4 linked regions of the Homo sapiens genome follow. The protein of the gene in region 2 interacts with the protein of the main gene of each other region in a biochemical or structural test. Each region holds a gene or a part of one and is shown on either strand. Other genes may lie near its edges. The genes, in order: KIT, BMPR2, FST and GDF9.

The links.
Region 1: the proteins of BMPR2 (region 2) and KIT form a complex in vitro, tested with the Homo sapiens proteins (one study listed by BioGRID).
Region 3: the proteins of BMPR2 (region 2) and FST are reported together in a solved structure, tested with the Homo sapiens proteins (one study listed by BioGRID).
Region 4: the proteins of BMPR2 (region 2) and GDF9 form a complex in vitro, tested with the Homo sapiens proteins (one study listed by BioGRID).

What each region holds. Positions count from the first base shown.
Region 1 is NC_000004.12:54,727,390-54,730,959, reverse strand, and holds part of KIT (mast/stem cell growth factor receptor Kit isoform 1 precursor), read right to left. Parts: intron 3,545-3,570; coding exon 3,418-3,544; intron 3,138-3,417; coding exon 3,033-3,137; intron 2,950-3,032; coding exon 2,839-2,949; intron 1,626-2,838; coding exon 1,475-1,625; intron 1-1,474. UniProt on the Homo sapiens protein: Tyrosine-protein kinase that acts as a cell-surface receptor for the cytokine KITLG/SCF and plays an essential role in the regulation of cell survival and proliferation, hematopoiesis, stem cell maintenance, gametogenesis, mast cell development, migration and function, and in melanogenesis.
Region 2 is NC_000002.12:202,379,326-202,382,895, forward strand, and holds part of BMPR2 (bone morphogenetic protein receptor type-2 precursor), read left to right. Parts: intron 1-3,570. UniProt on the Homo sapiens protein: On ligand binding, forms a receptor complex consisting of two type II and two type I transmembrane serine/threonine kinases.
Region 3 is NC_000005.10:53,483,560-53,487,635, reverse strand, and holds the end of FST (follistatin isoform FST344 precursor), read right to left. Parts: coding exon 3,914-4,076; intron 3,568-3,913; coding exon 3,343-3,567; coding exon of another isoform or gene 3,304-3,342; intron 2,640-3,303; coding exon 2,409-2,639; intron 1,950-2,408; coding exon of another isoform or gene 1,948-1,949; exon of another isoform or gene 1,709-1,947; coding exon of another isoform or gene 1,686-1,708; coding exon 1,603-1,685; 3' UTR 502-1,602; downstream 1-501. UniProt on the Homo sapiens protein: Multifunctional regulatory protein whose primary function is to antagonize members of the transforming growth factor beta (TGF-beta) superfamily including activin, myostatin, GDF11 or bone morphogenetic proteins (BMPs).
Region 4 is NC_000005.10:132,860,615-132,863,469, forward strand, and holds the end of GDF9 (growth/differentiation factor 9 isoform 1 preproprotein), read right to left. Parts: intron 1,943-2,855; coding exon 975-1,942; 3' UTR 571-974; downstream 1-570. UniProt on the Homo sapiens protein: Required for ovarian folliculogenesis. Promotes primordial follicle development. Stimulates granulosa cell proliferation. Promotes cell transition from G0/G1 to S and G2/M phases, through an increase of CCND1 and CCNE1 expression, and RB1 phosphorylation.

The sequences.
Region 1 (3,570 bases), on a different chromosome or scaffold from region 2:
CAAAGAAGAGCTTCCAAGACGTGTTATGCAGGAGGCAGAGATCGTTAACATATAGTGACTGATGGAGGAAGGTTTAAAAAAAAATCAAGTTGGTTCAGATAAACACCAATAATTTGGATGATTTTCTGAACCATCTGGACCTCTTCAATCTGCAACATTTGGCTGGAGACTCTTCAAGATTTCTAGTACTTCCTGCTTCTGATTAGCATAGAAACACCATGACAACAATCTCCTTCAGAGTGTGCTGGTGGTTCCAATCCCATATGGGATCCCAAAGCACAAAGAACATCACACAGGATTGAACAATTTAGGCCATTATATCAGAAAGTTAAAGGATATATATAGGGCCAAGGTTTCGGAAAGAAGCAAAATGGCTCATTTCTTCATATAATGAGCACATGCCCAGGAGAAACTAACAAAAAGTGGTTTTGTACAGTTTCTACTACCACTTTAAACTACTCAAGTTTATAGGATTAAAAAAAAATAAAAAGTTTCACCTGGGGTTTTAAACTTTAGCCAGAGGTACAGAAAATGGCTTTAAGGGGTAATTGCCCATCAATAATATTTACTGAGGTCTCCTTGAGGACCTGGTGTTAAGAGTTCAGGAGGCAATGTCTTGCCATTGCAAGATGCAGTGGATATAAAGTGCATGAAAAGGATAGGAGAAATCTACCACACAACTGCAGCAATATACAGTATAGGGGACTGGGCAAAATAACCATGACTTCTGTTGGACTGGGTACATCTAGGAAGTCTTCTCAAATGGTGGCCCTTAAGAGCATTTCCAAAGAAAGAATAGGCAAGATATGAGAAGAATTCTTTTCTGGTTGTAAGTCAAACTCAAAGCTCTTTATACATGATTCAAATTCAGAATGGCATCAATGATGAAAGAGATGAGAATAATGTCCAGAATTTTTAAAAAATGTGCTGGAGTAGTTATGTCTTTTAATAGCATGATGAAATAAAAAGGGCAAGAGGCAAGGTATACAGGAATAATCCAGAGGTCGATGGCAAGAAGCCTACATGTGGAGATATGTTCAGAGCTCTTTGTCATTCTGCTAAAGGTTTTAAAGGGACTTTACTGTGGCAACTTGAGAGGCTTTAGCATTTTCCCTATAAACAGTATCTCACTGGAAACATGCATGTAGTACCAAGCTCAATAGTATAAATGGAAATACATGCAGGACAGAACCGTAAGAGAAACAGATATAGAATGCATTCAGTTGCATGGAACTAAAGTGTAGAAGAAAACTGAAAATACATTTTTAAAAAATCAGCAAAAATCTAGGTTTGAATCTTTAAAAACACAATTTAACTTTCTAAACTGTTAATCACATTTAAATGATTTAATAATTTTGATTTCATACCTCAGAGTACCTCAGTTCATTTTTTAAAGAATCAGCCTTGATTGCAAACCCTTATGACCCCATGAACTGCCTGTCAACAGCTAACTATTTATGTAAATCAGTCTTACCAGGAAGACTCCTTTGAATGCAGAAGATTCTTATAAAGTGCAGCTTCTGCATGATCTTCCTGCTTTGAACAAATAAATGAATCACGTTTTCTTCTCAAAAAATTCAAAAGATCACCATAGCAACAATATTCTGTAATGACCAGGGTGGGCCCTAAAAGCACATAAGAAAAGGTTAGAAAGAAGGTGAGATATATAGATTAATTCTGCCTCCCATAAAAATACCCAAGGGTGGTCATGGCCATTAATATTCAGCTTCAGTGGATCAGACTACTTAGTCCCAATACAATCCCATATATTAACACTGCTTATCAAAAAAGCAGCCTTATGTGGAGTAACATAAAACAAGCAAGCCTCTTTTAACCTGAATTTCTAAGTGACATTAGTATTTGGAGCCAAGCATGACTGCTGGTTTTACAGAGAGAAGTTACTGCTTTCAAAGATTCTACTATTATCAAGCTTCCTACGTGAATCCTCTGGTTCACTTCTGTTTACAGCAGGGCTTCACACACTCTCTGTAACGTTATTATGGAAATAATGAAGGCACAAACTGTGGCATAGTGGGAAAATCAGCCACAAGGAGCAGCCAGCTGGGACAAGACTGGAAAGTGAGTGAAAACCTAAAATGACCTGTGTTCTGAGCGCTACTAGTTGAAAAATTTTTTGGTGCTATGAATGTTTAAACTGTAGTTTAGAAGTAACAGGCAACTAATTAACTTGGGTAAGAAATTTTCTCATGAACAATTCATGATGTGGTGAAGCAACATTTATGGGGATTATTGGAAGACATGATATAAGGCTGTCAACTTTATCGTGGATCTCCAGAAACAGCTCATTTTACACATCTTTGTTTCTTTCAACTGAAATACTTTCTGCAAACATCACAGACATCCTTGATGGGAACTTCAACTAAGGCTTCAAATTGGAAACTTATTTTTAGAGAAGTGAAATGTTTGCCTCATTTGGTGTATATTTGAGAACCAGTAGGCTTAGGCGCCTGTTTTAAATTGTAGTATGCAAATTAATATTAACCCTTTCAGTGGCTACATATGATCAAGAAATGTATAAAGCTTACAAGATAACAGAAGCCTTCTGGTCGGGATGAGATATTCAAGAGGCTGATGTCGTTGATGTTACAAATACGACAATAACTAGGGTATGTCCTGGGCTGTTCTACCCCATAATGATAAAATTAAAATCTGCATTCTTAAGAACAATGAGGAAAACAAAATCTAGCAAGAGAGAACAACAGTCTGGGTAAAAAAATCTTCCAAGCAGTTTATAATCTAGCATTGCCAAAATCATATTAAAATGTCATGTTTTGATAACCTGACAGACAATAAAAGGCAGCTTGGACACGGCTTTACCTCCAATGGTGCAGGCTCCAAGTAGATTCACAATATTCATGTGATTACCAAGGTAACTCAGGACTTTGAGTTCAGACATGAGGGCTTCCCGTTCTGTCAAATGGGCACTCGCTAAAATTGGAAACATGCATTTTAGCAAAAAGCACAACTGGCAAACTGATGTCAAGCGCATGCAGTACCATACAGGAACTTACGCTTGAGCATCTTTACAGCGACAGTCATGGCCGCATCTGACTTAATTAAGCCATAAGCAGTTGCCTCAACAACCTTCCCGAAAGCTCCAGCACCCAGGGTTTTCCCTGTAGGAAGGAAGACAACAAGGTAAGTGGTGATGGTGCTGGTGGTGGAATTGAAGGACCATTTGTGCAGTTTCAAAATCAATAAAGGAATTAAAAACAATGTTGTCCAGAGACATTTTCCTACGATGTTCTCTATGGCAAACCTATCAAAAGGGGCGCAATTTCACAGAAAACTCATTGTTTCAGGTGGAACAAAACAAAGGAAGCCACTGGAGTTCCTTAAAGTCACTGTTATGTGTACCCAAAAAGGTGACATGGAAAGCCCCTGTTTCATACTGACCAAAACTCAGCCTGTTTCTGGGAAACTCCCATTTGTGATCATAAGGAAGTTGTGTTGGGTCTATGTAAACATAATTGTTTCCATTTATCTCCTCAACAACCTTCCACTGTACTTCATACATGGGTTTCTGTGGGGAGAAAGGGAAAAATAGAT
Region 2 (3,570 bases):
GGGAGAGTAAAGTACAGAGAATTTGAATAACTCACCACACAGTCAGTAAATTATGGAGCCAGGATTATAGTGTGCGCCCTCACATACCACATTAATGGTAACAGCAGCACTAGCAGCAACAACTTCTCATCTTATTGGATATATGAGATGGAGTAATTAGCCTTCACCAGATCAACCTTTGTAAAGAAGCAGGGACACTTACAAGGTGTTAGTGCAGCAGTGGTTATGCAAATGTCGTAGTTCTGAACATGTAAAACTTTGCTTGGCCTAATATTGAAGTGGCTAGTGCAGCTTCATTAAGTGCAAGCTGATTAGAGAGGGCCTGTGTGGATTTGGGTTACACAGATGCAGTGATGTTAACTCGACAGGCGCAAATGGTGCAGCTGAACAGGAAAATAAATCCTAGAAGACTGATTGATAGCACATCCTTTTTCGGGGTCATGGATAAATCATTTCTTTTGATTCCCTCTTTCTCACTTATTGAGTTCTTGGACTCCTTAATTCTTAGAACATTTTCTTTCTTTCTTTCTTTCTTTCTTTCTTTTTTGTTCAGACAGAGTATCACTCTGTCGCCCAGGCTGGAGTGCAGTGGCACGACCCTGGCTCACCACAACTTCCGCCTCCCAGGCGCAAGTGGTTCTCCTGCCTCAGCCTCCAGACTAGCTGAGATTACGGGAGCCCACCACCATGCCCAGCTAATTTATTTTTATTTTTTGTATTTTTAGTGGAGACGGGGTTTCACCATTTTGGCAGGGTGGTTTCGAACTCCTGACCTCGTGATCCACCTGCCTCGGCCTCCCAAAGTGCTGGGATTACAGGCATGAGCCACCACACCCCGCCTAATTCTTAGAACATTTTCTATGCCCCCCCCAAAAAAAAAAACAACTTATGAAAAATAAGATGTGCTGGCTTGGTTTATGAATGAATTCTTAATAAAAGAATACAACACAGCTATTATTTAAAGGTCAACTTCTGTAATGCGTTTTAAATAATTCACTTGATTAGATTGCAATTTTACATACATCTCTTGAGGAACACACACATTATATAAAGTAAGATTAATCTAATGTTAGTGAATATTACTGAGTAACTGAAGTTTAGTAATCTTCATTTTAGTTTTTCTCAAAGTGTGGGTACTGCAACAGAATTACCTGGGGTTCTTGATAAAAATGCATATTTTTGGCCCTATAGTCCAGATGTACTGAATGAATCTCTCTGGGAGAACCCCCGCAAAGTCTCACTCAAGCAGGTGCTTGAGAAGCACTGCTTTATATCATCAGTCCTGATTGTTTGGATTTCTTTCTTTTTTTTTTTTTTTTTGAGTTTTGCTCTTGTTGCCCAGGCTGGAGTGCAATGGTGTGATCTCGGCTCACTGCAACCTCCACCTCCCGGGTTCAAGCAATTCTGCCTCAGCCTCTCGGGTAGCTGGGATTACAGGCATGTGCCACCACTCCTGGCTAATTTTGTATTGTTAGTAGAGACAGGGTTTCTCCATGTTGGTCAGGCTGGTCTTGAACTCCTGATCTCAGGTGATCTGCCCGCCTCGGCCTCCCAAAATGCTGGGATTATAGGTGTGGGCCACTGTGCCTGGCCCTGGCCCTGGCCCTGGCCCTGGCCCTGGCCCTGGATTTCTTTCTTTCTTTTTTTTTTTTTTTTTTTTTTTTTTTGAGACAGAGTCTGGCTCGGTCACCCAGACTGGAGTGCAGTGGCGCCATCTCAGCTCACTGCAACCTCTGCCTCCCGGGTTCAAGTGATTCTTCTGCCTCAGCCTCCCAAGTAGCTGGGACTACAGGTGTGCACCACCACACCCGGCTAATTTTTGTATTTTTAGTAGAGACGTGGTTTTACCATATTGGCCAGGCTGATCTCAAACTCCTGACCTCGTGATCTGCCTGCCTCTGCCTCCGAAAGTGCTGGGATTATAGGCATGAGCCACCACGCCTGGGCTGGATTTCTTAAATATGGTGATTCAGTGACATTTTGCTGTGTAATTATTGGCAACCACAAAATCTTAGTGGCATGCAACAATAGGCATTTATTCTGCTCCATGTGTCTCTTTCTGGGGTCCAGGCTAGAGGGAGAAGTAACATCTATCTGGGGGAGGCTTGTGTCATGGCATTGGCAGAAGTGCAAGAGGCCAAGCCCAACCCTACCAGCACATTTCCAGACTCTGCTCTCCTAACATCCCATTGGCTGACCGAGTCATATGGCTAGGCTAAGCTCAGAAACAAGAGGTATCAAAGTACACTTTGCCTGTGATGAGGCTAATGTAATATTTGGATATATAGTACTATTGCAGAAGAACGAAGAATTGAAATTCTCAGTAGACCACATATAACCAGTAAGATGGTCCAGAAGGGAGGCTTTTCTTACCCTTTGAAGAGGGCCAACCTCTTAATTAGTTTTTTGCATTAAAATGATATAAACTTTGGTCTCTACAAAAGCTATTCTGGCATGTGGGATGATGTGATAGTAGTGGTATTGATGTGGATGAGTAGTGAGGTGAGAGATAACTGTTCACACAAGACAAAACCTTTCCTTCATTAAAGGCCAGTTTTTTTTTTAACAAAAAGAGAAGAAATTGAATATTGATCTCTAATGGGTAAATTCTAACCATTAAAAAAATACTGAGTGGAATCTGTGTGAATCAGTTAATTTTATAATTGGCCACACCACTTATTTTGGCACCTACTCATAGATTGCTGTGCTGCTGGATATCAGTTTTTGTTTTTGTTTTTTTTTTTTTTTTTTTGAGATGGAGTCTTGCTCTGTCACACAGCCTGGAGTGGAGTGGCACGATCTCGACTCATTACAACCTCCACCTCCCAGGTTCAAGCCATTCTCCTGCCTCAGCCTCCCGAGTAGCTGGGATTATAGGTGTGCACCATCATGCCTGGTTAATTTTTGTATTTTTAGTAGAGATGGGGTTTCACTATGCTAGCCAGGCCGGTCTCGAACTCCTGATCTTGTGATCCACCTGCCCTGGCCTCCCAAAGTGCTGGGATTACAGGTGTGAGCCACCACACCCGAAATTTTTTTATTTTTAGTAGAGATGGGGTTTCACCATGTTGGCCAGGCTGGTCTCAAACTCCTTACCTCAGCTGATCCACCCACCTTGGCCTCCCAAAGTGTTGGGATTACAGGTGTGAGCTACCGCACCTGACCAGGTATCAGTTTTATGTATTTGCCTTGTCCTTCCTACTGATAATTGCTTCCAGAGGACAGTATTCATGTCTGATTAGTTTTATAATTTAGTAGACATTTAAGAAATACTTAGTGAATGAATAATAAATAGGAATTTCAACCAGGAATATTCTAGGGTTGTTTATTGACTCAAATAACACACCAATAACTTTTTCTTTGTCCTAGTTCCTTCAACTATAAAGTATGTAGTTTAAGAGGTATAGTGGGAAGACCACTGTTGGGAGTTAATGAGACCTAGATTCTATATGATTCCGGGCAAATAGGTTACTTAACATAGTTTTCTTACTTGTAATAATATGGGGTTGTACTTGATCATTTTGAAATACAGATTCATGGGTACCCCACTAGACCTACTGAATCCAAATC
Region 3 (4,076 bases), on a different chromosome or scaffold from region 2:
TCCTCACCTCATCAAGTCCCTAGCATTCCAACACTATAATGTCTACTTCTGCAGCTGATATTCTGATTTCTAGAATGTGTTTGTCAAATATTATATCTGTTGTCAGCTTTCCTTGTGATGTGTGTTGTTTTTTAAAAGACTGAAACTGCACTGGATTTATGGGAAAGTAAGATGAAGCGTGTCCCTGGCTATGGTGATGAGCTTGCAACAAGGACAGCTAAAACGATGGTGTTTTTAAAGAGGAAATATTAGCCTTGGCATATTGCAGGAAAGAACCCACATCTACAGTCTGTTCCTTCTGTGGTTAGTGACAGGTATATGCCACTCCTACAGTGGGGTTGCTGGACCTCAGATCCCTTTATCTTTCAAACTCCAGTGAAGTGATCTGTACTGCCCTGGCCATGTAATTTCAGAGATAGCTACATTCCTCAGCAAAGGTATCATACACATTTTTACTCAAAAGTCCAAATAACTTCTTTGCATCATCAGGAATTGAAACCATTGGCTTTTTAAAATTTTTTTATTTTTTCACTCATCATTTATTTACAAATACACATTATAACTTTTATATACATTGCACATTTACATGGTAGAAAAGTACAAAACTATATATTTAAATGAATTTATATTTTAACTTGCCATGTTTGAAAATATAAAATTGCATCAGAAAAAAGTATTATGAAAAGCAAGAAACTTGAACTGATAAAGCTTTGATATAACTTTTAGTGATATACTGGTTGAAAAAGAACTAATTTAAAAGGTACAGCTGAGTAGCTTAAAGGAAACACCTAACAAAAGGTTGAATGTGTAGCCTTCAACATCCTTTAGTCTCCTGACACCCACATCATTTCTTTGTATCTGTAACATCTTAAAAGTACATTACTAGAATTCTAATCATCTCCTCTCTCACAAATGTCTTCATCATAACAAAAGAACTGAAGTAGGAGTTTCCTCAAAGATGCTTATCTTCTGTACCTTGTATTTGAGTCAGAGTTATAATGCCTTTTGGTCAGTCAAGGTTCCTTGTAAACAAAACCCGAGGGATCATGTATGTACAGATCAGGCAGCAGAGAATCCAATAAATAAACATGACAGAAACTGACATGCAAGTTTGTTGAAAGTGGAAAAGAGTCTAACAGTGAAATGAAGGGAGACAGATGAGTGAGTGAATAGTAAGGAATGGACTTAAATGGTTTACAAGGAAAAAAAGCTTTTACTTTACAAGCAAGAGACCTCACAATAAATAACAACTGCTCTTCCTTTCACGAATAAATTTCTTCAAAAACAAGGTATACAGTCAACCAGACATTTTATGTATAAATTATAAAACATGACACAGTATAAATAAATGTCTACAAGTCTCAACTATGGGCCTCATCCAGTAGACCTCACAATGAATGCCTCTCCGTGTCCAATGAGTAACAAGGTGGCCTGGGAGAGAGCTTTAGGACAAAGGTCCTTTAATGTATAGTTTTCCCCCCAAATAAATAAGCATACACTTATTTACAGTATGGACAATATATTTTTCTTTTTTTCTTTTTCTTTTTTTTTTTTTTTTTTTTTGCACAAAGGCTATGTCAACACTGAACACTTATAGAGAGTTTACCACTCTAGAATAGAAGATATAGGAAAGCTGTAGTCCTGGTCTTCATCTTCCTCCTCTTCCTCGGTGTCTTCCGAAATGGCTAGATGGGGGAATACAGGGGAGCTGTTGTTTAAATACGGACAACAACAGCGCAGAAGCAGCTCAGTGTATGTTTTCAAAGCCCTCTGATACAGCCATATTACAGCGTTGCATTTTTATGTGACTTGCAGTGAGATGCTTTTTTTGTTTTTGGCATCTGCTGTTATGCAATAAGTTAAAAAAATTTTTTTAAAGCATAATCTATGAAGTCAAAAACTGCAGAAAGTTCTGAAGAATCAATGGCTCAGGTTTTACGGGCAGATTCCTGAAATTAGATAAAAAGCGCTCTTGTGTTCTAGGTATAACTGCTTTGGGTCCTTAATTCAGAGTTAGTAGAGGCAACTGCAAAAAGCAGCAGCCCATGTGTGATAATATGAAGCTGTCGTTGGAAAAAAAAAAAAAAAACTTTTGAAGCAGTTAGTTTAGACTCAAATGTTAATAAAGCAAACAGCAAAGCACACTACCAAAACACAAGAAATAGGGGAAAACAACTGGAAATAGATTTCTAGAGGCAACCCCATTGATGATCACCAGATAAGTCCTAAAAGCCAAGAAACATCGCAGAGAATTTTCTGTGGATTATTGAATTGCTGGTGATACTTAGCAGCTACCTAATTTGAACAGAAATGGATTTATGGGAGATCTGCGTGCTTTGTAAGTGTCCATTCCCTAGGGATTGCCTGGGAAAGCCTTAAATGGCAGCAAGGTTAAAAATCGCACTTACAGTTGCAAGATCCGGAGTGCTTTACTTCCAGTAGCACACCTGAGGAGCAGGCAGCTTCCTTCATGGCACACTCGCTGGCATAAGTGGCATTGTCACTGGCACAGACAGGCTCATCCGACTTACTGTCAGGGCACAGCTCATCACAGAGGGAACACCGGCCTCTCCCAACCTTGAAATCCCATAAACATTTTTTCCCACCAGTGCACTGGATATCTTCACAGGACTTTGCTTCTAGGATATAATACATCTGTGATGAGTAAACTGATTTCCCCATATCCCCCTTTTCTCCCTTTCTCTAGTCCTCTATCAATAAATATAAACATAATTTATTTTATATAAACATAATAGTAATAGCCTATTACTAATGGGGGTAATGGAGATATTATGCAAAAATGCTGGATAATAAAACTGAAACTCAAATGCACACACACATACACACGCACAAAACCCCTGCAGTTTCTTACATACTACATTAGTGCATTAAAAGGGTATTTTTTTAAGAACAGGATTTTACAATATTCTCAAGTTAAATATGTATCTTATTATTTCCCACAAGTGGGATCTTTTACAAAAGAAAGAATTCCATTAATTACTAGAATCTGACAACAGATTTCTGGAACTGCTAAGTAATTATTTTTCGCTTCCAGCAAGTCTGGCACTTAAAAAAATGTGTAAAATTGAGTAAGTTCTAAGTTTTCTAAGACGGAATACTGTTCCTTGCTTCCTGCTGGCATTTGAATATATGTGTCAATGCCTCCAGAAGACAATGGTTTCCATGAGGAATACTGTGGTCACAACACTTTCCCCAAATTGCAGCGTATTTCTCCCTATGGTGTTTGGGGACGCCTTGGGCTTTACTTATTAGTTAACCCCACAGTTTAATAATAGAACTAGCCTGTTTTCTCTTTTTCCTTCCTCAATCCAGAATACCTACTGATACACTTTCCCTCATAGGCTAATCCAATAGATCTGCCCAGCAGGCAGGTAGCCTTTCTCAGGTGGCAGGCACTGGAGTAGGTGACTCCATCATTCCCACAGAGATATTGCTCAGAGGAAGCAGGCTCTGGGCAAATCCGATTACAGGTCACACAGTAGGCATTATTGGTCTGGTCCACCACACATGTGGAGCTGCCTGGACAGAAAACATCCCGACAAGTCTCTGGAACAAAGAAGGAAACACACATGAATAGGTACCTTCTAGTCCTTAGGGAGTGAGCACTTGAAGTTACCAAGGAAATCATGACACTGAAGCATCCAGCTTTCAAAAGGCACTTAGGGAGCCCTGTAGTTTTCAAGAGAGAATCTATGACTAGGTTGGTCCCCTCAGTGTTCTTAATGAATCTCTAGAGGTTAGAAAAGGACTCCTTTATTTGGTTTCAGTATTACTATTATCAGGCTCTTACTGCGGACTACACCATCCCCCAAGGGTCTTCTAGAGGGTCTACTTTAGGTACAAAGCTGGAGGAGGGGACAGATCCAGTCTTGCTCAACAGGGTAGGACCTACTTTTACATCTGCCTTGGTACTGGACTTCCAGTTCTGGCTGCTCTTTACATCTTGCCTTTAGGAGTGCACATTCATTGCGGTAGGTTTTCCCATCCAGCCCGCAGACTGGACCCTTCCAGGTGATGTTGGAACAATCCGGGGCGCAGACGCAGCGGGGTTTGTT
Region 4 (2,855 bases), on a different chromosome or scaffold from region 2:
ATAAAAACCCTAGCATCCACATAAGACCCAGTCAATAACATAACCAGTCACTACTGCAAGCTTAGTAGGAACAGTTATAAATCTATCTGGAAAAAAACCTGTGGGGGTGGAGTGGAGGGAGCTAAGCAAATCAGCAAAAACCAAACCAAAACAAAAAACCTTCCCTGGCTGCCTTTCATAAGGTCAGAGGTTTTAAATATATAAAGAAAAAAATACACTTACAAAGTCTTGTACGTAGGTTTTCTTGGAAAAACATGCAAGGCAATTTCCTTTACATGAATGGGACAAATGTTATATTGTTCTGTGTGACTCGATTGATTTATATATGCTAGTTAACAAGGAGAATTAGTATACTGTTCACCAATCACACTAAAGCAACGGAAATGGGTTACACTGCCTGCTCTCTAGTCCTAGTGAGTCTTAACTTCATGAGAATTTCGGTGACATTAGCCTCCCTTTCACTCTGAAAAAGGATCAAAAGTCGAGCTATGGCCAGCTTTTAGACACTTCCTCTCCCCCACTAAATGATCAGCTTAAAAGCAATATTTAATAAAACACACACAAAATTTATGCCATTGACAGAAATTTATTCTTCTATTAAGACTACAGCAATCTGAATTGCCTATTTATAGCTGCAAGTCCATCCAGGATTGATGCTAATTAAGGTTTTTTCCCTATCAAGAATAAGACTCCTATGAAAAGAAAAAAAATCACTCAAGGAAAAAAATGTAAAGTTCTCCACAATAATTATATTTCATTTAAATTTGGAAATAAAAAAAGGCTCTGTAGCAACAATTGATGTTATCCCTTTATCCTGATAGATGCCATAGAAGGTACTAACCTACACAGGCTCCTCTTTATATAACATATGCTACATTTAGAGACTTAATATATGAAGCTTTCTCTTGAAGGCACACATAGGCACACAGTAGTTACTTTGCCAAATAGGCTCAAGGTTTTAAGAGGACCATTTGTTAACGACAGGTGCACTTTGTAGCTATCATATCTTCGTACTCTTTATAGGCAATTGAGCCATCGGGCTCAATGGTCAAAACACTCAAGGGGCTGTATTTGGCAGGTACACATGACGGTCTTGGCACTGAGGAGTCCAGCTTCTCATAGATGATGTTCTGTACCATGGTGTGAACTGGAGAGCCATACCGATGTCCAACTGCCCTTGGACAGTCCCCTTTACAGTATCGAGGGTTGTACCTGTGCGGAGCCACAATCCAGTTGTCCCACTTCAGCTGACTAAAGCTAAGTCTAAAGTCATGGAGCTCACACTCATTTTGGGGAAGAAGAAATTGTCTGAAGTATTCACTCAGATTGAAGGAAGCTGGGCCCAAGGGCTTCTTCAATTCAGAACTGACAGTTTCCTGACCTCTGCGGTGACGGTGATGGGAAGATCTCCCATCCTCAGCAGCCTCTTCTCCCACAGGATAGGCAGACAGACTTCTCTCCTGGTCAGGACCCTGGGAAGGCCTCCTTTTATAGTGAAGGGAATACCAGCTGTGATAAGCCTGAGCACTTGTGTCATTCAAATATAAGATCAGTGAGGGGGACACCAGAGTCATGTTAAACAAACCATTCTGTGCTGAAGGATGCTCCAGCTGGTCTTTCATGCAAGTAAAATTTATAGACATGTGAATACTTCTCTTGTTGGAGGCCACTAAAGGTTGAAGGAGGCTGGTCACATCAATCTGAATCCATTTGTGTTTCTTTCCAAATTCAAACTGTGAGTTAAAGGTAAATGAGTATGGAGCTCTGCCGAGAGTCCTGCTAGAAGACTTTGGCTCCTTTATCATTAGATTGCACACACATTTGACAGCAGAGGAAAAAGAAACTGAGTTGTTGATATTGTACAGCAAGACTGACTTGAGTAAGTGTTCAACGGTAGTAATGCGATCCAGGTTAAATAGCAGTTCCACTGATGGAAGGATTCCTAAGAAGAAAAAAAATCTACCAGTAGTGCTTGAAAATCAGTCAACACAACAGGCAGTCAAGTCAAAGAATTAGTACTTCATAATATGCTTTCTCCCTTCTCTTTTCCCCACTTTCTCAAGCCTCAAAAAAAAAAATGGGGGTTAATATAGAAAAGGAAGGCAATTGGTATCATTACTAATTCCCAGCAACCTTACTGGACATTTTATCTCCAGAAAGTCAGATTTGGTGGTGAATCAAAGTAACAGGGAATCACTACATTCTGAAGTTTCATTTTTATTTTTTATTTTTTTGAGACAGGGTCTCACTGTTACCCAGGCTGGAGTGCAGTGGCACCATCATGGCTCACTGCAGCCTCAACCTCCCAGGTGCAACTGATCCTCCCACCTTAGCCTCCCAAGTAGCTGGGACTACAGGCATGAGCTACCATGCCCAGCTGATTTTTTGTTTTTGTAGAGACAAGGTCTCGCCATGTTGCCCAGACTGGTCTTGAACTTCTGGGCTCAGGCGATCCTCTCACCTCAACCTCCCAAAGTGCTGGGATCACAGGCATGAGCCACTGTGCTCAGCCTGAAGCTTCATTCTGAGTAATTTGCTCCAAACACAGAAGCAGCTGAGCTGATAAGGAAAGTAGTATTTTTCTCTTGGATAATCTCTAGAGGGAAAACCATAATAGAAACACTTATCAGACTTACTAAGATGACATTCTAAGCCCTAGTGAAGAAAGTCAATTTAAAACAATGTAATTGGTCCTAGTTAATTTAGAACACTTGAGATTAAAAACAGATGCTCTAAAACCACTATATTAAAATAGGATATTAAGGAAGCAGATACAACTGCCCTGTTGGGTTAGAATGGTTTTAAATCAAGAGCTGGTAGATATATACTTTTTTTTTTTTTTTTGAGACAGAGTC